Regions from separate parts of the Homo sapiens genome. Here region 2 is linked to region 1. Evidence: fine-mapped expression QTL. A gene starts in region 1. The other region holds a variant in brackets. All regions are shown on one strand. Distances are between the middles of the regions.

Region 1 (11,351 bases):
CCTGTAATCCCAGCACTCTGGGAGGCTGAGGCAGGCAGATCACTTGAGGTTAGGAGTTCAAGACCAGCCTGGCCATGGTGAAACCCCATCTCTACTAAAAATACAAAAAACTAGCCAGGCGTGGTCGTCCATGCCTGTAATCCCAGCTACTTGGGAGGCTAAGTCAGGAGAATCCCTCCAACCCAGGAGGCAGAGGTTGCAGTGAGCTGAGATCATACCATTGCACTCCAGCCCGGGCAACAAAAGCGAAACTCCTTCTCAAAAAAAAAAAATTTTTTTTTTTAAAATATTGACTGGGCTCAGTGGCTCATTCCTGCAATCCCAGAACTTTGGGGGGACAAGATGGGAGTACTGCTTGAGGTCAGGAGTTCGAGACCAGCCTGGGCAACATAGCAAGACCCCCATCTCTCTAAAAAAGTTTTTTTAATGAAAAAAAACTTTAAAATACAGTTTGACATATATCCTCCCAGACATATAAAATTTAAAAATATTTGAGCTTTCTAAAGATTTCTATTAGAAGGCCATTGGAGATGGAATTGATACGGGTAAGAGCAAGAAGTCTATAATGCAGTGCTTAAGGGTATAGTCCAAAGTTGAACAGCCTTTGTTTGAATCCTCGCTTACCTACTTTTTAGCCATGAGACCTGTGGTGGGATAGTTTTCTTCTCTGTACCTTGATTTCCTCATGTGTAAAATGGAGACAATAAAGGTACCTATCTCAGAGGATTCTTGTGAGGATTAAATGAGATAATCTGTGTGAAGTTAGAGTAATGGCTGGTATGCTGTAAGTGTTCAATAAATGTTAGGGAACACACAGGAGATACAGAGGCAGTGTGTTTTAATGGAAAAAGCTGACTTTGTTTTTTTGTTTGTTTGTTTTGAGACTGAGTGTTACTCTGTTGCCCAGTCTGGAGGGCAGTGTTGTGATCTCAACTCACTGCAACCTCCGCCTCCCAGGTTCAACCAATTCTCATGCCTCAGCTTCCCAGATAGCTGGGAGTACAGGCATGAGACACCACGCCCAGCTTTTTTTTTTTTTTTTTTTTTTTGAGACGGAGTCTCCCTCTGTCGCCACGCTGGAGTGCAGTGGCATGATCTCGGCTCACTGCAACCCAACCTCCGCCTCCTAGCTTCAAGGATTCCCCCACCTCAGCCTCCCGAACAGCTGAGACTACAGGCACGCGCCACCATGCCCAGCTAATTTTTTTTTTTTTGTACTCTTAGTAGAGATGGGGTTTCACCATGTTGGCCAGGATGGTCTCGATCTCTTGACCTTGTGATCCGCCCACCTCAGCCTCCCAAAGTGCTGGGATTACAGGCGTGAGCCACCGCGCCCAGCCAGGAGAAAACTGACTTTGAACTTGGCTCTACCACTTACTAGTTGTGTGAGTTTGGACAAATGCTTAACTTTTTTGATCCTCAGTATCTTTATTTGGATTGATGTAAAAGATTGGAAATAACATGTGTAAAGTACCTGACACAAATGAAGCACTCAATTAAAAGTTGCTATTATACTTAATTGTGGACATACAGGTTTAATATGGATGAGTGCTGTTCGGTTGAGCTAAGGATGTAGGATAAAATGATTTAAGGAAGAACTACTGAATCAGCTATACTCTGAAAAATCTGAAATTTGGCATACAAGAAATAACATGAGAATCACAAGAACAGATTTTGAGTCTTGGTTCCATCATATACTGGTTTAGAAACTTTGGGTAAGTCACTTAAACTTTTCACCATTTTCTTCATATACAAAATGGACATGAGCACAACTGCCCTGCTTCCAGTGCATGTTTTTTTAAAGATATAATTTACAAATCATAAAAATTCACCTTTTAAAATTATACAATTTAGTGGTTTTTAGTATATTTGCCTCTATCTAGTTCCAGAACTATTTTTTTTTTAAGAGTCTAAGTCTCACAATTTGCACAGGCTGACCTTTAACCCCTGGTCTCAAGCCATCCTCCCAACTCAGCCTCCCAAGTAGCTGGGACTCTAGGATCATGCCACCATGCCTGGCTTAATTCCAGAATGTTTTAATTATTCCAGAAATAAATCTTACACTAATTAACTGTCACTCTCTATTCCTACCCTTCCTGAGCCCCTGGAAATCACTAAGCTAGTTTCTGTCTCTGTGGATTTTCTTCTATTCTGGATCTTTCGTATTAATGGAATCATATATGAGTGCCCCATTGTATCCGTCTTTTTTCACATAATATTCTCAAGGTTCATCCATATTGTAGCATGTCAGTACTTTATTCCTTTTTGTGACTAAATAATATTCCATTGCATATATATGCCACATCTATTGATGAATGGATTTGTTTGGATTGTCTCCACTTTTTGGCTACTATGAATAATGCTGCTATGAACATTAGAGTACACATTTTTGTGTTGACATATATTCAGTTCTCCTGGGTATGTACCTATGAGTGGAATTGCTCAGTCATGTGGTAATTTTGTTTAACTTTTTGAGGAACTGCCAAACTCTTTTCCAACGTGGCTGCACTATTTTACATTCATCCTCACCAACAATTATTATGATAGCCATCCTAGTGAGTGTGAAATGACGTCTCACCACGGGTCTGATTTCCATTTCCCTAAGGATATTCAACATTTCTTAATGTGCATATTAGCCATTTATATATCTTCTTTGGACACATATCTATTCAAATCTTTTGCTCATTTTAATTTTGTGTTTTCTACTCCCTCCATTTTGCAGATGAAGCCCATTTTTAGACAGGAATACTGTATTTGTCTTTTTATTGCTGAGTTATAAGAGTTCTTAGGCCAGGCGCGGTGGCTGACGCCTGTAATCCCAACATTGGGAGGCTGAGGCGGGCGGATCACTTGGGGTCAGAAGTTTGAGGCTAGCCTGGCCGACATGGTGAAACCCCGTCTCAACTAAAAATACAAAAAACAGCCGAGCGTGGTGTGGCGCGTGCCTGTAATCCCAGCTACTCCGGAGGCTGAGGCAGAAGAATCGCTTGAACCTGGGAAGTGGAGGTTGCAGTGAGCCGAGATCACGCCATTGCACTCCAGCCTGGGCGACAGAGTGAGACTCCATCTCAAAAAAAAAAAAAAAAAGTTCTTTATATATTCCGGATACTGGTCTTTTAGGCACACAGGTTATCCTGTATATTAAATAATAGTGGCTGTGCCAGCGGCTTGTTAAACTGTAAGATGTGACGCAAAATAAATGAAGGCGATGACAGTGAAAGGGGAGAGATACGAGGTTCCACAGCTGGAGGGTGAACGCCCCCTACACCTCCTGGGCTTAATCGTAACCGGAGCGGGGTACCCTCAATTTCCCCAGCCCACAGGCCCCGCCCCCCCCCCCGCCCTTTGACCTGCGCCGCTTCCGGTTGAAGACGTGGCTTGGGGCCGCCATCTTGGCAAGAGGCGAAGCGGCAGCGGTTCCTGTCAAGGGGGCAGCAGGTCCAGAGCTGCTGGTGCTCCCGTTCCCCAGACCCTACCCCTATCCCCAGTGGAGCCGGAGTGCGGGCGCGCCCCACCACCGCCCTCACCATGGTAAGATCCGAGCCAGGACCCGAACTCCTGGGGTCCGAGCCTCACCGTCTCTCCTTGTCGGCGGGCCTGGGGCAGGGGCCGGAGGAGCCCCGCCCTGAGGGTCTAGGGCAGAGTGCTTTTGCTCCGGGCTCGGGGAGCAGTGTGGCCTCCTGTGCCCGGTCTCCTGGAGATCCGATGGAGCTGACTCCAGTCCATCTGTCGTCGTGCCCGCTTCCGCACCACCCCCCAACCAGCTGGACTCCCTCGTTTGCTGGGACCTGCCCCTGAGACGGCCCGGCGTTTTTGCTCTGCGAGAACTTCGTGGTGGTGGTGCGGGTCCCAGGCTGCGGACCTCGGAACTGATGCTGTCCCGCCGGTTCCCTGGCGCTTAGGCTCAGCAGGCTGGGCCTGTCTCCGGAGGTTCTGGTCCTTCTGTTAATCAGAGCTTGTCTCCCACCCCCGGTGTTTGCTAGGCCGTTGATAACTCGAAATGCAAATCCACTGGTGTCCAGAAATTTTTCTTTTTGTTCAGAAGGGGGAAATGGAGACACAGAGCGGAAAGGAGTAACTTCTAACACTAATGTATAGGACCCAAGTGTCTCTGAAACCTTCCACTACTTCCGCAGAACTCACTTGTGTCCATTTGTTAGTGTGACTCGGGGTACATACACTGTGTAGACCACTGGGAAAATGTGAGCAGGTTCCAGAGAACACAGGGTTTGCCTTCAAGGAACTTATTGTCCAGGTGAAGAAAAATGTGTATGTGGCATGTCGTAGTCAGATGTCTCACAGGAGGTGGAGTAAGAGGGATGGGTTAGCCTCCGAGACCAGTTACTTGCCTTCCCATGCGTTATCTTTGTATACTCATCTGTTACAAGGATGAGAAAGGTTAATGTGGTTGAGGATGGAGGAAATCAGAACTGCTGACATCACTCAATCTTCCTTTATCGCTGTGATTTGTGGATATTCATGAAGTAGTAGACATTCTTTGGTTTCAAAAAAGCTAGTAATTTATTTTTCAGTGCACCTTATGTCCTTTAGTCTTTTGAAGGATGTTCTGTTCTGTTCTTTTTTATTCTTTTGTCAATAGATAACTTGATTTAAAACATCGTCCAGTGTACCTGAGAGATGGCAGAATGTAATTTGGTGGCAATCCTAATAAGTTCTATTGACAACCCTTTAGATAAGAACTTGGATAATGGGGGGAATTCATGCTTGGACTTTAGGCCACTGAACAGCTTTTCTCAGCCTCAGGTATATAAATTGCATCAAACAGGTTTGCCTCCTAAAATTTTTGTGTTGGACACAAAATTTCCAGAAACTTGTATTTTCAGTTTCTCCAGGAGGTTCTGTATTTGGTTAGTGATTTTGAAACTCAGTTCCCGTTTACACCCTGGAATTAATAATGCATTTTAGAGCATATTTTTATTTTAATAGTAAAGTTAAGGTCTTGTATTATATAAACCAGATAAAGGTAATCTTTCTAAAAATATTCTTTGTTAAAAGGTTCTTGGAACTTAGTATTTTTAATTCATTGATAACTGAGGGATGGTAAAGCCCTACGTGATATATATAAAATATAACTTTTGCATGCTATTTTGACATGTGTACGTATACATAGAGTTGTGTCACATATTTCTGAATTATTTGGGACTTAACATGATCCAGATACCCACAGATTTGTGTACTCTGGAGAACAATTTATCTCAGTACATTCTGCTCTGTAGAGTGTTAAGACATTGGTATGATTTCTGTGTAATGTTTTTGGGTCCTGCTCCTTTACAAACAGATCCCTGGACAGTAGAAATGTCCAGATAGGGTGAAATTTTTATCTAAAAGTTGTATCAAAATTTCCAGCGTTTATTTTAGCTCAACATTTCATTATGAAATTTTCCAACATCTGGAAAAGTTGAAAGAACTTTGTAGTGAATACCCATATAACCACCAACTAGATTCTATAACTAACATTTCACTATATTTTATCATGCATCTAATCATCCATCCATCCCTCTCTCCATTAAAAAAAAATATACATTTCAAAGTAAGTTGCAGATATCAGTACGTAAACATTGATTTTTTAAAAAATAAATTCCCTTTGGCTTTAGTTATTGAAGTGCAGAATGTCCTAGACTGCAAAGTTCCAATAGATAAATAAGTGAACAAATGCAGAAACAAATGCTTTCTCATGACTTCATCATAAAATAAAGTACAAAGAAAGGCATCTTTTGATTTTTTTTTTTTAAAGAGACAGGGTCTCACTATGTTGCCCAGGCTGGAGGGCAGTAGCTATTCACAGGCGCTATCATAGTGCACTGCGGCCTAGAACTCCTAGCCTCAAGCAATCCTCCCGCCTCCATATCCCAAGTAGCTGGGACTGTAGGCATGCGGGCCTTGATTTGATCTTTTTTTTGTATTCTGCAAATTAATGAGAACATGTTCTGACTTTTTTTCTTGTTTGTTTGGTTTTCGAGACGGATTCTCGCTCTGTCTCCAGGCTGGAGTGCAGTGGCACAATCTCAGCTCACTGCAACTTCTGCCTCCCGGGTTCAAGCTATCCTCCTGCCTCAGCCTCCTGAGTAGCTGGGACTGCAGGCGCCTGCCACCACGCCCAACTACTTTTTTGTATTTTTAGTAGATACGGGGTTTCACCATGTTAGCCAGGATAGTCTCGATCTCCTCACCTCGTGATCTGCCCGCCTCGGCCTCCCAAAGTGCTGGGATTATAGGTGTGAGCCATGGCGCCCGGCCCCTGTATTATTTATGTATCTTTTTAATTGTGTTTTGAGGGACAGCAAAGAAAGAAAATGATTCTCTTGAGTTTCCATTGATTTGCCATCTATTTATGTCTTCATATAGAAGTTCACTGCAGAAACTGATAACGGGTGTGTGTGTGTGTGTGTGTGTGTGTTTTAATTCTCTGCAAGCTTTTGTTTTAGAATAGAAATGTGATGGACTTAAAACCCTCACTGAGTAAATTACTTTTCAAGTTTTAGGTTTCGTATGTGGTCTACATTTTATTGTAATCTTCTCTCTGATTTTATCTATAATAGCTTCATATAAATAGAAAAGACAGAACAGTCCTCCCTGACAATTATAGAAACTAGCCTTAATATGACCATGAATTGTGTGTGCATGTATATGTGTATAAAATATTGCGGTGAATTACAAAGGAGAAGGTGACTATAATTCTGGAAGTAAGGGATCCTGAAGCATTTAGAGATTCAAGAAAGAACTTGACTTTTTTTGAGAGAGAGTTGTGCATATTTATCCTGAATTATTATACCACCTGTTATTCTTGTATCTCTCTTGCACACACAATTTGTTATGGTTAGACAATTTGCCTTCTGGCAGCCTAATGTTACTATAAAATATTGTTCCAAAGTGGTTAGAACTGGAGCAGTGGGTATAAAATGGAAGTATTGTACATTTTCTGTCACTGTAGTTGTTTTTTTTTTTTTCTGTTACTGTAGTTTTCAAATGCTTAGACTTACAGAACTTTAAAGACACAGAGCACTTTGGATTTCATGTAAACTAACCTCCTATGTTAGGGATATTTCAATAATCAATTAAGTGACTTATCCAAGGTCACATAATTAGTGGCAAAGGCAGAACAGAAACCTAATTCTCCAGGTTTTTTTACTTGAGGCACTTAACAATTCATGTAGTTAAGTCTGTGTAGGAGAGAGTTGTTATTTAGTCCAAAGATAGTGTACTCAAACCATGTAAGAATTATTAAAAGTTGTTTGGCAAAGCTCAACTTTATGAGGGAATTTTTTTTTTTTTTAACCGTCCTGGAGAGATCATCTAACTTATGGGCCCTCAGTTTTCACATCTGTAAGACAATCAAGGGCTCTTGCAAGTTCCTTTTAGATCTGGAATGTTTTTTCCAAAAATGTTAAAAAAAAAAAAAAAAAAAAAAACCAAAAACTTTGTAATCATATTTATTAATTCTTCCTCAGAGAAAATCAGATCAAATTTCAATAGGGAAAATTGTTAACTTACCTTTTAGTATATGCTATATTTTAATAATTGTTAAACCAGTAAACATTAATGTAAAGAGGTTTATTATTTCAAGAACTTTAAGAAGACAAATGTTAATTTAGGATAGGATAAATTTATCATGTTTAGAGGTGACCATACCTTCTAGCCATATTAGTAGCTGTAACAGAGAGACCTGTGTCAACTGCCTGGAACCTGTAATTTGTGGTGTCCTGGGTGTTCGGAGATTTATGCTATACTTAGTATGGGGAACTATGGTCCTATTTTGGAAGCCTTGTTTTGCTTGTATCTGGATAATGGAATGACTCAAAGAGAGACATATGATTTTACCCTACTTCTTTCTTCATCTTGACGTACTGAAAGCCTGGAATTCTGGCCAGGTGTGGCGGCTCATGCCTGTAATCCCAGCACTTTGGGAGGCTCAGGCGGGCAGATCACTTGAGGTTGGGAGTTTGAGACCAGCCTGGGCAACATGGCAAAACCCTGTCTCTACAGAAAAATACAAAAAATTAGCCAGGTGTGGTGGCCTGTGCCTGTAGTCCCAGATACTTGGGAGGCTGAGGTGGGAGAATCACCTGAGCCCAGAAGGTTGAGGCTGCACTGAGCCAAGATCACGCCACTGCACTACAGCTTGGGCAATAGAGCAAGACTCTGTTTCAAAACAAACAAATCCTGGAATTCATCAAAGCATGATCTAAATTCTGTTTCTTTCTTTCTTTCTTTCTTTTTTTTTTTTGAGGCAGAGTCTCACTTTGTAGCCCAGGCTGGAGTGAAGTGGTATGATCTTGGCTTACTGCAACTTCCGCCTCCCAGGTTCAAGCAATCCTCCCACCTCACTCTCCCCGTAGCTGGGACTACAGACGTGCACCACCAGACTTGGCTAATTTTTTGTATTTTTTGGTAGAGACAGGGTTTTCCCATGTTGACCAGGCTGGTCTCGAACTCCTGACCTCAGGTGATCTGCCTGCCCTGGCTCCCAAAGTGCTGGATTAAGGCATGAGCCACCGCTCCCGGCCTAAATGCTGTTTCTTCTATCAAGTCATCCCTGACTGTACCAGCTGGAAGTAATCTCTTCCTCTGAATTTCCACGCACTTTATCGGTTACTCTCTCATGTTACTTAACACATTCTGCCTCATATTACAGTTATTTGTGTTTGTGTCTTATCCCTATTAAGCTTCTTGTAGGCAGAATGCTAGCCTGTGTCATCTTAATTCTCAGAAAGCATGTTGTATGTATAGTAGATGTTCGATAAATAATTACTCAGTTAATTCTTATAATATCGCAAAAATGGAGATTACCAGTACCTATAATTAGTTTTTGAACATGCTCATCAGTAAAGTGGATGGGCCAGGTGCAGTGGCTCACTCCTGTAATCCCAACACTTTGGAGGCCAAGGCGCGCAGATGACTTGAGGCCAGGAGTTGGAGACCAGCCTGCCCAACATGGCAAAACCCTGTCTCTATTAAAAATAGAAAAATTAGCCAGGCTTGGTGGTGCTGGCCTGTGCCTGTAGTCCCAGTTACTCAGGAGGCTGAGGCATGAGAATTGCTTGAACTCAGGAGGCAGAGCTTGCAGTGAGCCAAGATGGCACCACTGCACTCCAGCCTGGACTACAGAGTGAGACACTCTCTCAAAAAATAAATAAATAAATAAATAAATAAATAAATAAATAAATAAATAAATAAAGTGGATAGTAACATACACCTTTTTGTTCCTTTTTCCCTCTCAAGTTGCTTTTGATGTTTTTACCTAAATTTTACTTGTATGGTATAGAGGTGTTTTTAACTCCAGTTGGAAACCTAAGAACTACCCTTGAGCCTGTAAACATTGTTTCTAACAGGTTTATTATTAGATATGGGGTTTCTATTAAATGCAGCATGTTTATATAGGTCTGAAGTTTTGGTCTGAGCTGTCCTTTCTTTAGGTGTTCATTTGATTTGTCTTATTTCTTCAAAACCTCATAAAATTCTAACATAGAGGACCATGACTTCCTAGAGCTATGACTCTCAACCTTTTAGGGATAGGAGGCTCTACAGGGATTACATTTACAATATGCTCCCATTTATTAATAATATTTCTCATCGCATGAGGGGATTTTCTATGGGCCATTTGAAATAACTTCTCTAGAGGATCGATGCATTCCCTGAAACTGTATGTAAAATTTTGGGGGGAGAGTCAATATTCATTATTTGAATATCAAAATATTGACAAAGGCAAAAATCCATTGCCTTGGCCGGATGCTGTGGCTCACACTTGTAATCCCAGCACTTTGGGAGGCTGAGGTGTGCGGATCACTTTAGCCCAGGAATTTGTAGCCTGGGCAACATGGCAAAACCCCGTCTCTCTTTTTTTTTTTTTTTTTTTTTTTTTTTTTTTTAATAAAAAAAGAAAAATCCATTACCTTGAAGTGGCATAAATTTTTTTCATGAGATGCATGTTTATTATTACTAATGGTGCTGTTTTACATCATGAATATATGTGCTACAAGTTGTATAGCACTTCTGAAGTACAGTTTCATTATAGTCATTTGGCCCTCATAATAGCTTGTAAGGTCATTAGATAATGCTGCATTTTATAGGAAAAGAAACGAGGTTAAGAGAGGTTGGGTAACTGAAGGTCAGGCAGATAGTAAATAGAAGAACAAAACTAGAAAATAGATTTTCTCACTCCCAGTCATTTAGTTTTTCTAATATCAGCTTGGTTCTTTGCAAATTTGGGACACTAGTTCTAAGTCTTTAGGAAAAGGAGAAACCAATGTGAAATGATCCCAAATATAAGGGAATTCCCTACTTTTCTGATGAAACTATTAAGAAGGAAAGCTTTTTGCCAATTGTATAAACTTTTTAAAATGCAGCCAAAATAGGCCGGGCGGTGGCTCATGCCTGTAATCTCAGCACTTTGGGAGGCCGAGGTGGGCAGATCACCCGAGGTCAGGCATTTGAGACCAGCCTGGCCAACCAACATGGTGAAACCCCATCTCTACTAGAAATACAAAAAAAAAAAAAAAAATTAGCCGGGCGTGGTGGCAGGCGCCTGTAATCCCAGCTACTCGGGAGGCTGAGACAGGAGAATCACTTGAACCTGGGAGGTGGAGGTTTCAGTGAGCGGAGATCTTGCCATTGCACTCCAGCCTGGGCAACAAGAGCAAAACTCCATCTTAAAAAAAAAAAAGGTAGCAAAAATAGTCAAATATGTTCTTAAAATAGTTAATAATTCACTTATATGTATATGTTTTAAATAAATAAAGTTTAATTTAGAAATAATTACTTTTTTCCATTTTCATATTAATAAAACAATTTTTTCTAGATTCTTTATGAACATCATGTCATCACTGGGGCCACTTTTTGAATCATCAGTTTGGTATTTAGCAGTTTTGAATCCATGTGTGATATATTGGCAGTTTGGGAAATTTTATCCCAAGTCATAAAAACCCATTTATATAATATTAGGATAGTTGCTTTTAAAAGGAATATTTTGTAACTGATATTCAACACATGAAATTGTGAGTTCTGGCTAGGCGTGGTGACTCATGCTTGTAATCCCAGCACTTTGGGAGGCCAAGGTGGGCTGATCACTTGAGTCCAGAAGTTCAAGACCAGCCTGGGCAACATGGTGAAACCCCACTTCTACCGAAAATACAAAAATTTGCCAGGCATGATGGCACCTGCCTATAGTCCCAGCTCCTTTCAGGGGGCTGAGGCAGGAGGATTGTTCAAGCCCAGAAGTTGAGGCTACGGTGAGCCAAGATTGCACCATTACAGTCCAGCTTAGGTGACAAAGTGAGACCCTGTCTCCAAAAAAAAAGAAAGAAATTGTGAATTCTGATCCTCAGGATAATTAC
Region 2 (11,688 bases), 23 kb after region 1:
CTATCCAAAAGTGATTTCTGTTTTGTTTTGTTTTGTTTTGTTTTCCTGAGATGGAGTCTCTCTCTGTTGCCCAAGCTGGAGTTCTGTGGTACGATCTTGGTTCACTGCAACTTCTGCCTCCCCAGTTGAAGCAGTTCTCCTGCCTCAGCCTGCTGAGTAGCTGGGATTACAGGCACCTGCCACCATGCCCAGCTAATTTTTTTTATTTTTAGTAAAGATGGGGTTTCACCATGTTGGCCAAGCTGGTCTCGAACTCTTGACCTCATGATTCGCCCACCTCATCATCCCAAAGTGTTGGGATTGTAGTCATGAGCCACCATGCCCAGCCCTTCTGGGTTTTTTTTGTTTTTGTCTTGTTTTTTTGTTCTTTTTTTTGTTTTTTTTTTTGTTTTTGCACAGTCTCTCTCTGTCATGCGGGCTGGAGTGCAGCAGCACAACCTTGGCTCGCTGCAGCCTTAACCTCCTAGGCTCAAGCAATGCTTCCTCTTCAGCCTCCATAGTAGCTGGAACTATAGGTGTGCACCACCACACCCAGCTATTTATTTATTTATTTATTTATTTATTTTTTATTTTTTGAGACGGAGTTTCACTCTTCCTGCCCAGGTTGGAGTGCAATGGTGTGATCTCGGCTCACCGCAACCTCTGCCTCCCGGGTTCAAGCCATTCTCCTGCCTCAGCCTCTCGAGTAGGTGGGATTACAGGCGTGCGCCACCATGTCCAGCCCCAGCTAACTTTTGTATTTTTAATAGAGATAGGGTTTTGCCATGTTGGCCAGGCTGATGTCAAACTCCTGACCTTCAATGCCCCTCTCACCTCAGCCTCCCCAAAAGCAATTTCTTTTAAAAAGATAAGACTATCTTAATTGGCTTGGATTTTAACAACTTTAAGTCTCTAGGCAAAATTGCAACTAGACTTTACACAGAGCTTGCCCTTTTCTGCTACTTTATATAAGGCCAGAACTGCTGTCTGACCCAGGCAGCTGATCAGGGTCTTACTGGAGCCTTCTGCTTGGCAAACCTGGCCCCACCATGAACCTGCTCCCTGTGAAGTATTTTTGGAAAGAACTTGGTTAATAGTCTTTTAACTTTTTCAGGTGCAAACTTGTTCTGTAATGGCTTTTAGAGTTGAAATTAGCTTTTTTTTTAAAAAATTACTAGTTTTTAAGTATCTTAAATCATTTTAAAATAAGTCTTTGAAGAAGGGAAATCTTTCTTCAAAATGAAAAAGAATTGGAATTTGTTAGGTACTCTATTTTGGATGTTTAGATTGTGGGCCATATAAGCCTAGTGAGGGGTTGTTTCTCGTCTATCTGAACCTCAGGAGTTTTCCTTTCCCTCTCATTCTAGACCCATCCAAATGTGGATAAAAAACTTTTCACTGCAGAGTCTCTAATTGGCCTGAAGAATCCAGAGAAGTCATTTCCAGTCAACAGTGACGTAGGGGTGCTAAAGTGGAGACTACAAACCACAGAGGAATCTTTTATTCCACTGACAAGTAAGTGCCTCTGGCCAGTCCCACTAAGCTAGTTTGCATTGAGAACTAGAAATAGCCCTTGCTGGTACACTTTTATTTTTATTACCATAGCAAAGTTCTTTCTGACAAAATGACTTTCTTTTGAAATGGACCTGGTGCTGCATTTTGTATATTTTTATCATTAGTTTTCATTTTTAATAGCTTTCATTTTGAAACCATTGTAGTTTTGTTGTTGTTATTGTTTTAGAGACAAGGTCTTCTTCTGTTGCCCAGGCTGGAGTGCAGTGGGGCAATCATAGCTCACTGCAGCATCAAACTCCTGGACTCAAGCCATCCTCCTGCCTCAGCCTCTTTAGTAGCTGGGACTAGGACTATAGGCACATGCCACCACATCCAGCTAACTTTTTTTAAAAGACACAAACTCCCTCTGTCACCCAGGCTGGAGTGCAGTGGTGTGATCATGGCTCATTACAACCTTGAACTCCTGGGTTCAGCTGATCTCCCACCTCAGCCTCCTGAGTAGCTAGGAGAACAGGGAAGTGCCACCACGCCTGGCTTTTTTTTTTTTTTTTTTTGGTATAGGTGGAGTCTCACTTTGTTGCCTAGGCTGGTCTTGAACTCATGGCCTCAACCAATCCTCCCACCTCGATCCTACCACCTTGGTCCTCTAAAGCGCTGGGGTTACAGGCATGAGCCACTGCACCCAGCCATCTTTTTCTAATATTCTAGTATGACTGCTTTGCTTTCTCCTCAGTTAATTGCTGGCCCTCGGAGAGTGGAAATGGCTGTGATGTCAACATAGAATATGAGCTACAAGAAGATAATTTAGAACTGAATGATGTGGTTATCACCATCCCACTCCCGTAAGTGCTGTCCCTGTGTCCTCTACGGTGGACTTAGAGAACTGGTCTTTTGGAACTCATTTTGGAGTCAGCACCTACCTGACCTGACTGTCCATTCAAAGATACTTCTTTAAAAAGCTAGTTGTGAAAGAAGCCAGATACAAAAGGCTGCATGTTATGTGATTCCACTTCTTTGTCTTTCTGGAAAAGGTAATACTATTGAATAAAAATGAGGAGGTAGAGAAGAAGGTACTTCACTTCAGAGGGGCACAAGGGAACTTTTGGGAATGATAGGAATGTTCTAGGACTTGTGTTTGCTTTGGCAGCACAGGTACTAAAATTGGAACCATACAGAGAAGATTAGCATGGGCCCTGTGCAAGGCTGACATGTAAGTTATGAAACATTTCATATTTATAAATAAGTAAAGCAAGGAAATTGTTTTTTTGAGACAGAGTCTCACTCTGTCACTGGAGGTCACTGGCACGATCTCAGCTCACTGCACCCTCCACCTCCCAGGCCCAGGCTATCCTCCTGCCTCACCCTCCCGAGTAGCTGGGACTACAGGCGCACACCACCACGCTTGGCTAATTTTTGTATTATTTGTAGGGACGGAGTTTTGCTGTGTTGTGCAGGCTGATCTCAAACTCCTGAGCTCAAGTGATCTGCCCGCCTCGGCCTCCCAAAGTGCTGGGATTATAAGCGTGAGCCACCACACCCAGCCAAGAATTGCTCTGTGACTTGATTGTGGTGGTGCTTACTGCATACACTTGTTGAAATACATTGAGCACTTGGAAGGGATGGATTTTACTGACTTTAAAACCAAATTGAACAAGCCAGTTGTAGATCTGGAGCTGTTTTTATTTATTTATTTATTTTTTATTTTTATTGGAGACTGAGTTTCACTCTTGTTGCCCAGGCTGGAGTGCAATGATGTGATCTCGGCTCACTGCAACCTCCACCACCTAGGTTCAAGTGATTCTCCTGCCTCAGCCTCCCGAGTAACTGGGGTTACAGGCATGTGCCATCATGCCCAGATAATTTTTGTATTATTAGTAGAGACGGGGTTTCACCATGTTGGCCAGGCTGGTCTCAAACTCCTGACCTTAGATGATCTGCCCGCCTTGGCCTCCCAAAGTGCTGGGATTATGGGCGTGAGCCACCGCACCTGGCTATTTTTATTTTTATTTTTTTGAGACAGTCTCACTCTGTCAGCCAGGCTGCAGTGCAGTGGTGCAACCTTGGCTTACTGCAACCTCCACCTCCCAGGTTCAAGCGATTCTCGTGCCTCAGTCTCCCAAGTAGCTGGGATTACAGGCGTGTGCCACCACGCCCAGTTAATTTTTGTATTTTTAATAGAGATGGGGTTTCACTATGTTGGCCAGGCTGGTCTCAAACTCCTGTCCTCAAAATGATCCACCTGCCTTGGCTTCCCAAAGTGCTGGGATTACAGGCGTGAGCCACTGCACCTGGCCTGGAGCTGTTTTTAGATGTTGGTCCTCAGCTTGTTTGTGTAGTAATGAAGATTTCCAGAAGGAGGAGCCATTTGTCAGTCAAACTTTCTGTTTTGCAGGTTTCAAAGAAATTGAGTCTATCGGGCTGAATGTTTCATTTTCACGTGCTAGTCTCTAAACTTTCACTAAAGATGAGAGTGTGTTCAAGGGAACTGTTGATTCTTGTTGAACAAGATGTCTACATTAGTTACAGTAAATTTCCTAACAGCCCTTTTGGAGCATAATTTATATACAATAAACTACACATATTTTAATTGTATAATCTTGACATGTTTACACTTGTGAAACCACCACCATAATCAAGATAACAAAAATGTCATGTCAACCCCAGAAGTTGAGTTCCAATAAGCTTTTGTTGTACACTTAAATGGCCCACTATCTAGGATCAACTGGAAATGGTCTCTACCTTATCTTTTTAGTAACATTTACAGTGAGCATGCAGTTATTACTTCACAGTAAATCCTAGCTCCTTTCACCTACCCATCAGCCCTCATGATTAAGCACAATGTTTAATTATGAGCACCAGTAAGTGTATTCTTAGTGTATCTTTACTGTTATGTCGCTCAGTTATTGCTGCAGAGAAAATGGTACTAATTTGCCAGGCGCAGTGGCTCACGCCTGTAATCCCAGCACTTTGGGAGGCCGAGGCGGGCGGATCACGAGGTCAGGAGATCGAGACCATCTTGGCTAACACAGTGAAACCCCGTCTCTACTAAAAATACAAAAAATTAGCTGGGCCTGGTGGCGGGCGCCTGTAGTTCCAGCTACTCCGGAGGCTGAGGCAGGAGAATGGTGTGAAGCCGGGAGGCGGAGCTTGCAGTGAGCTGAGATCGCGCCACTGCACTCCAGCCTGGGTGACAGAGCGAGATTCCGTCTCAAAAAAAAAAAAAAGTACTAATTTAATTCATAGTTTTCTTCCCTTTTTGATAATTCAAGCCTTTACATTATCAGGTCTGGTTTTAGTCATTCTTGTTTCCAATTTTAAAAATATACTTTATTACCAGTATCCCCTTTAATGGGTAACCATCTTATCCTCTACAGTATGGTTATTGCTTCAGAACAATAGATGGCTGCCTTGAACTGTTGTAGGACTTGGGTGTTGGTGACAGGTAGAGTTTTGTTTGTCAAGATTTAGTTTACTAGACTATTTATAGAATGCTACAATTTTGAGGCCTGTCTACCCTATAATTGTGGTTGTGGTGGTTTCCTGTATTCTAGTTCAGTTTTGCAATGGTCTCCAGAAGAGACCCTTACACAACATTTTACTCCCGTTGTCTAGAACTGATCAAATTAGAAGAGATCAGAATCAGAATTAGAGCAAGGGCACAGAGAAGGAACATAAAAGAACCAGGACCCTGAAATTGATAGGGAAGAGTTAATAGTCTTATGCCACCCTTAAAGTTTACTTTGTCTCCCTTATTTACCCTATCCCTAATATAAACATTGAGTGTCACTGGTGAATTAAAAGCTGGTAAATTTAGAATGTGTAGGAGTAGGTGACACTGCCTGTCAGCCGTGTGTAGGGGTGCAGAGTAAATCTTAACTAGCCCTGCTTCTCTCGCAGATTAAGGACAACTACGGATCTGTTTCTCCCATCATGTTTCCATTTTGCCCCAGGGGTAATTGTGCTTTCACTTATCAAATAAAAGTCCATTTACTGGATTGTAAATCAAATAAACCCATTGGTGTCAACTTCAATAAGTTTGAAACATTCTGAAATCTTTAAAAACAAATTCTCGGCCGGGTGCGGTGGCTCATGCCTGTAATCTCAGCACTTTGGGAGGCCGAGGCAAGTGGATCACGGGGTCAGGAGATGAGACCATCCTGGCCCGCATGGTGAAACCCCGCCTCTACTAAAAATACAAAAATTAGCTGGGCGTGGCGGCACACGCCTGTAGTCCCAGCAACTTGGGAGGCTGAGGCAGGAGAATCGCTTGAACTGGGGAGGCGGAGGTTGCAGTGAGCTGAGATCACGCCACTGTACTCCAGCCTGGCGACAGAGCAAGACTCTGTCTCAAAAAACAAATGAACAAGAAAACAAATTCTCTCAAAGGCCTCCATTCATCTCCACTATTGATGTTTAGAGTTTTCCCCCACTATTATCAATCTGCTTGTTTCCCCATTGTCTCCTA[T/C]AAAGAGTGCTACATTATGTTAAAATTCCTTATTTATAGGGCAGCAACCTATTGGTGCAGGGTTTTTGGAAACATAGCCATCTTAACACATCTGTTGGTCGCAGTCCCCAGATCTAGTCCTTAAGTTGGAGCAGCCCATAGGCATATCTGCCAAATACCTATTTTTGCATATTAACTATATCTACAGAGGGAATTGAGTGAAACTCTTAGCCCAAGGTGCTAGGACTTCATCGTTTGATCCTTGAAGTTATTAGCCTTTTTTTCCCCTGAAATTGTAGTCCTAGAAGGCAAAATTTGGGGATCATATATCAAATTTGGGGTTGGTTTTCCGTGGTGGAGTTCTAGCTCTGAACAGCTACCTTGACCAGAATGTTTCTCACAACAGGTCTGGTGTCGGCGCGCCTGTTATCGGTGAGATCGATGGGGAGTATCGACATGACAGTCGACGAAATACCCTGGAGTGGTGCCTGCCTGTGATTGATGCCAAAAATAAGAGTGGCAGCCTGGAGTTTAGCATTGCTGGGCAGCCCAATGACTTCTTCCCTGTTCAAGTTTCCTTTGTCTCCAAGAAAAATTACTGTAACATACAGGTACTCCATTTTAGTTGAGAACATATATAGGGAAAGTGGTAGGACAGTAGGAACACGTATAGGATGCCAGACAGGTAGCATGGCTTTTTGTGGTCAGATAAAGCTCAGAAAAAAACTGATGTCTCCTACAGGAATTCCCTTTCTAATTCATTGTATGATCGTGGTCAAATTCTTTTATTGCTTTACCTCAGTTTTCCTCTCTAGATCAGACAAAGTAAAGAAATGGAATGTTAATACAGATAAAAGTACTTGTGGATTATGCAAGATTCATAAACACTTAGTTGCCTGTTTTTTTTTAACCTTATATATTTTAAAGTCGATTTGCCAAAACACCCCAACACATGGTTTTTTTAAGGCCTTGCTGTCACTTGATTTATACCCAAAGAATGAAATTGTTTTATTTAGAAGACAAAATTACTACAAAAAAAAAATCCATTCTATTACAAATGGAAATTATTTGAGGGTTATTTATGTCACAGCTCCCTTTATTAGTACAAATAATCATGAGCCAATTCTGTTGCAAACTCTGTCCTTTAGGTAGGCAAAGCAATGGAGATGTGTGAGCTGTTCCTTCGGATTTTTTTTTTTTTTTTTTTTTTTGAGATGGAGTTTTGCTCTTTTCACCCAGGCTGGAGTGCAATGGCGCGCTGTCAGCTCACCGCAACCTCCGCCTCCCAGGTTCAAACAATTCTCTTGCCTCAGCCTCCCAAGTAGCTGGAAATACAGGAATGCGCCACCATGCCCTGCTAATTTTTGTATATTTGGTAGAGACGGGGTTTCTCCATGTTGGTCAGGCTGGTCTTGAACTCCCGACCTCAGGTGATCTACCCGCCTCAGCCTCCCAAAGTGATGGGATTACAAGTGTGAGCCACAGTGCCCAATGGATTTTTTTCCTTTTTTTCTGAGACGGAGTCTTGCTCTGTTGCCCAGGCTGGAGTGCAGTGACATGATCTCGGCCCACTGCAACCTCTGCCTCCCGGGTTCAAGCAATTCTGTCTCAGCCTCCCCAGTAGCTGAGATTACATGCGCCTGCCACCATGCCTGGCTAATTTTTGTATTTTTAGTAGAGACAGGGTTTCACCATATCGGTCAGGCTGGTCTCGAAATCCTGACCTGAGGTGATCCGCCCACCTCAGCCTCCCAAAGTGCTGAGATTACAGGCGTGAACTACCACGCCTGGCGGATTTTTTTTTTTTTTAAGACGGAGTTTCACTCTTGTTGCCCAGGCTGGAGTGCAATGGCGTGATGTTGGTTCACTGCAACCTCTGCCTCCCAGGTTCAAGCGATTCTCCTGCCTCATCCTCCTGAGTAGCTGGGACTACCGGCATGCGCCACCACGCCTGTCTGATTTTTGTATTTTTAGTAAAGACGGTATTTCACCATGTTGGCCAGGCTGGTCTCAAACTCTTGACCTCGTGATCCAGCCACCTCGGCCTCCCAAAGTGCTAGGATTACAGGCGCGAGTCACCGCGCTCGGCCCGGATCATTATTTTTTAACTCATCATTCTTCCAGTTTTTATTGTTGTTGTTGTTTTGAGACGGAGTCTTGCTCTGTCACCAAGGCTGGAGTGCAGTGCGATCTCAGCTCACTGCAGCCTCTGCCTCCCAGGTTCAAGTGATTCTCCTGCCTCAGCCTCCCAAGTAGCTGGGACTACAGGCGTGTACTGCCACACCCAGCTAATTTTTTTTTGTATTTTTAGTAGAGATGGGGTTTCACCATGTTGGCCAGGCTGGTCTCTAACTCCTGACCTCAGATGATCCGCCCACCTCGGCTTCCCAAAGTGCTGGGATTACAGGAGTGAGCTTCCACGTCTGGCTGTTCTTCCAGTTTTTTAATTTGCATTACTAGGACCCAGTTTATATTATTAATATTCCCCTCTTTTTGACTTGCTTGTTGTTCTGGCCCTACCTTAGCTTCCCATATGGTCTCCGTCTCCCCTGTAAATGCTTAGAAAATTGCAGCTTCCTCCCTTGAATGATTCCAAAGAGCAGTTCTCTCTCCCTATCCTGTTAGTGACATAACCCCATCAGTGTTGGAAGCAACTGTATTGAACTCAAGACATTAGATAGAAATGGGTAAATTTTCCTATTGGGGCTATTCAAAGATTAGGACATTATAATTGCTCTCCCAAAACTTCATTAGAAAATACGAATCAGTGGTTCAAGTGTTGTATTGGTGCCGTTATAGGTACCATTGTTACATGTAATTAATTAAGCTGGACATTTATTTATTTAAAAAGGAAAAACCTCATTGGACCAGCCATGCCTAAAAAATAAGTATGATAGAGCAGCTTACTGGGACTTTTAACACGAGACTTTGAGAGCAGAGCAAATGAATAATGTGAAGAGCTAGAACGTTGCCTTTTGGGTCAGAATGTTAATATATCATCCTGATAGAATGTCTATGAATTTCATAGGTTATACAGGGCAGGGCTGGGCTGTGGCCACTCATTTTGGAGCTTTTACTTAATACTACGGAACATCTCGTCCCAACAGTTGTCTTTTCTCCATCTAGAAGAAAAGCAGCTTAATCATTTTGGTGGGGAAGAGTGATGCTGTGACTTTCAGTTGTGAATTGAACATTTTTCTAGTATTTTACAGTTACTTTTAATACCGCTTTTAGGGAAATTGATATGTTCTGTAATGAGAATGTAGTCAACATGATGGAGACTCAAACCTCCTGCTTTACCTTACTCTTTGTTTATTTTCCTAGGTTACCAAAGTGACCCAGGTAGATGGAAACAGCCCCGTCAGGTTTTCCACAGAGACCACTTTCCTAGTGGATAAGTATGAAATTCTGTAATACCAAGAAGAGGGAGCTGAAAAGGAAAATTTTCAGATTAATAAAGAAGACGCCAATGATGGCTGAAGAGTTTTTCCCAGATTTACAAGCCACTGGAGACCCCTTTTTTCTGATACAATGCACGATTCTCTGCGCGCAAGGACCCTCGACTCACCCCCATGTTTCAGTGTCACAGAGACATTCTTTGATAAGGAAATGGCACAAACATAAAGGGAAAGGCTGCTAATTTTCTTTGGCAGATTGTATTGGCCAGCAGGAAAGCAAGCTCTCCAGAGAATGCCCCCAGTTAAATACCTCCTCTACCTTTACCTAAGTTGCTCCTTTATTTTTATTTTATTATTATTATTATTATTATTATTATTTTTTGAGATGGAGTCTCACTTTGTAACCCAGGCTGGAATGCAATGGCATGATCTCAGCTCACTGCAACCTCCGCCTCCTGGGTTCAAGCAAGTCTCCTGCCTCAGCCTCCGAGTAGCTGGGACTACAGGTGCACGCCACCACGCCTGGCTAATTTTTTGTATTTTAGTAGAGACGGGGTTTCACCGTGTTGCCCAGGCTGGTCGCGAACTCCTGAGCTCAGGCAATCCGCCCACCTCAGCCTCCCAAAGTGTTGGGATTACAGGCATGAGCCACCATGCCCAGCTGCTCCTTTATTTTAATCCCTAAATATAATCCCTAAATATAGTTATATTTCATACTTAGTTTGTTTTTAAAAAGTTTTCTCTGTAGAAAATTTTAATCATTCATACCCTTTACCTTTAGGTTTTTCTTTCTATACATTCAGTCAGGCACTGGGATCATCTGTTTACAGGCATTATATTTATTTGGCACTCCTGGAACAAGTATATCTAACCCATTCTTGATTTTTGGACTATTCAGGTGAACTATTTGAGGGGTATGGGGTCTAGAAGTTAAAAGATACGCATGTCTTCTGTTCTTTTCCCGTATCAATTCATTCCTTCATCTCTTTGCCAAGTTGTTTTCCTTTCAGGGCCTGTCCTTCCAGTTTAGAACAGTACCATGAATCCCACTTGTGTCAATATTAAAGATAGCTGAGAAGCACCTTTCAAATGGCACAGTCCCTCTTCAAGATGTCTAAAAGAATGGTTATGTCTGTCCAGTTAGGGATTTCACATCCACATGTAATCATGTCTGCTGCTGTTGCTACCCAAATTTTCATTTCTCCACATTTTGGGTACTTAAGCTAAAACGTAATGGCCACAGTCTGTAATCCATTCACATTCCTCAGTTTCACCACCTCCCTCTTCCAGACTGCACTCTCTGTCATCAGTCCCCTCCTTTCTAACAGAAATGGGGTTATGATTTTGAAGGCTGTGGGTTCAGGGAGTCTTTGCCAATCCTGTTGGCCCTAAACTATCAAGGAGGCTCCATTTCACCATTTGATTTTTTGCATTTCAGGAGGCAACTGATTGTTTCGATATGTACATATTACTCACGTATACCCCATTTCCTTCCAGTCAGCCCAACATTTTCCACCAGTCTGTCCCCATCTCTGAAATCCTTCCTTCTCTTTCCCCCTAAGTCTTTTGAGTGTCATCATGTACTGGTGGTTTCTCGGTTCCATCTCATCCATTTCCTTTTCAATGGAGACTACAGCGTCAGCCAGCTCAGCCTTGGCTTTTAACTCAATATTCCAGTCCATAGGGGTGGTTAAAAGTTGCTGCAAGGCTGCAGGCACTGGCAGTGGGAAGAGGCAGACGACTAGATGACTTCTGCACTTTTAGCTGGTTGAAAAGTACCACTCCCACTCTGAACATCTGGCCGTCCCTGCAAAGAGTGTACTGTGCTTGAAGCAGAGCACTCACACATAAATGGCTGTGTGTGGAATTGCTTGCCAAAGAAGTTTCTAGCCTTTCCCTTTCCCCTAACTGCATCAGGGAAGAATTCTTATCTCTAGCTTGGTTTCCACATGAGGTTTTTCTGAGAAGGGCTTGGGACAAGAAGTCTGTCATGTTAGTTAAGCAGGCAAGAAATCCTACTAATCCAGTTTTGTTTGAAAGTTGTTTGTCCGTATGATTTTTTAAAAGTCAAGTTTAATTTCAAAAAACCTTTTTTTTCTGAGATTACTTTTGGGGTAATATTTAAAATGAGAGACATTTTGTAACCCTGTAAAATACATAGGGAATATAACATTCCAGTGTATACAAAGAAGGCAAATTCTTTAATCAAATAAAGCGCATTATAAAATGAGATGTTTATTGGATTATTGACTCACTTTGGTGTCTGCTTGTTGATTCAGGATGCTGTAATGGGACCTAACATTAAAAATTAATGACATGTTTTTTTTAAGAGAAAGTAATCTGTGAGAGTAT

Evidence for each region. PIP is the estimated chance that this variant, and not a neighbour inherited with it, causes the effect.
Region 2: its variant is fine-mapped to the expression of ARCN1 in whole blood (TOPMed, PIP 0.98).

Annotation. Positions count from the first base shown.
Region 1 is chr11:118,569,020-118,580,370 of GRCh38, forward strand. ARCN1 (archain 1 coat protein complex I subunit delta) reads left to right here and starts at 3,390. Exons shown (of 10, transcript NM_001655.5): 1 at 3,390-3,531. The coding sequence starts at 3,529. It also overlaps a transcript of IFT46 not described here. RefSeq lists enhancers at 3,052-3,181, 3,692-3,771.
Region 2 is chr11:118,591,363-118,603,050 of GRCh38, forward strand. It overlaps ARCN1 (archain 1 coat protein complex I subunit delta), which reads left to right. Exons shown (of 10, transcript NM_001655.5): 7 at 1,347-1,494; 8 at 2,228-2,336; 9 at 6,345-6,549; 10 at 9,263-11,671. The coding sequence ends at 9,352. LOC124902765 (a long non-coding RNA gene) reads right to left here. Exons shown (of 2, transcript XR_007062908.1): 2 at 11,537-11,688. It also overlaps the pseudogene RNU6-1157P. Among named protein-coding and RNA genes, the nearest start is that of PHLDB1, 10 kb to the right of the region's middle. The variant T/C (reference allele first, on the strand shown) is at 5,960.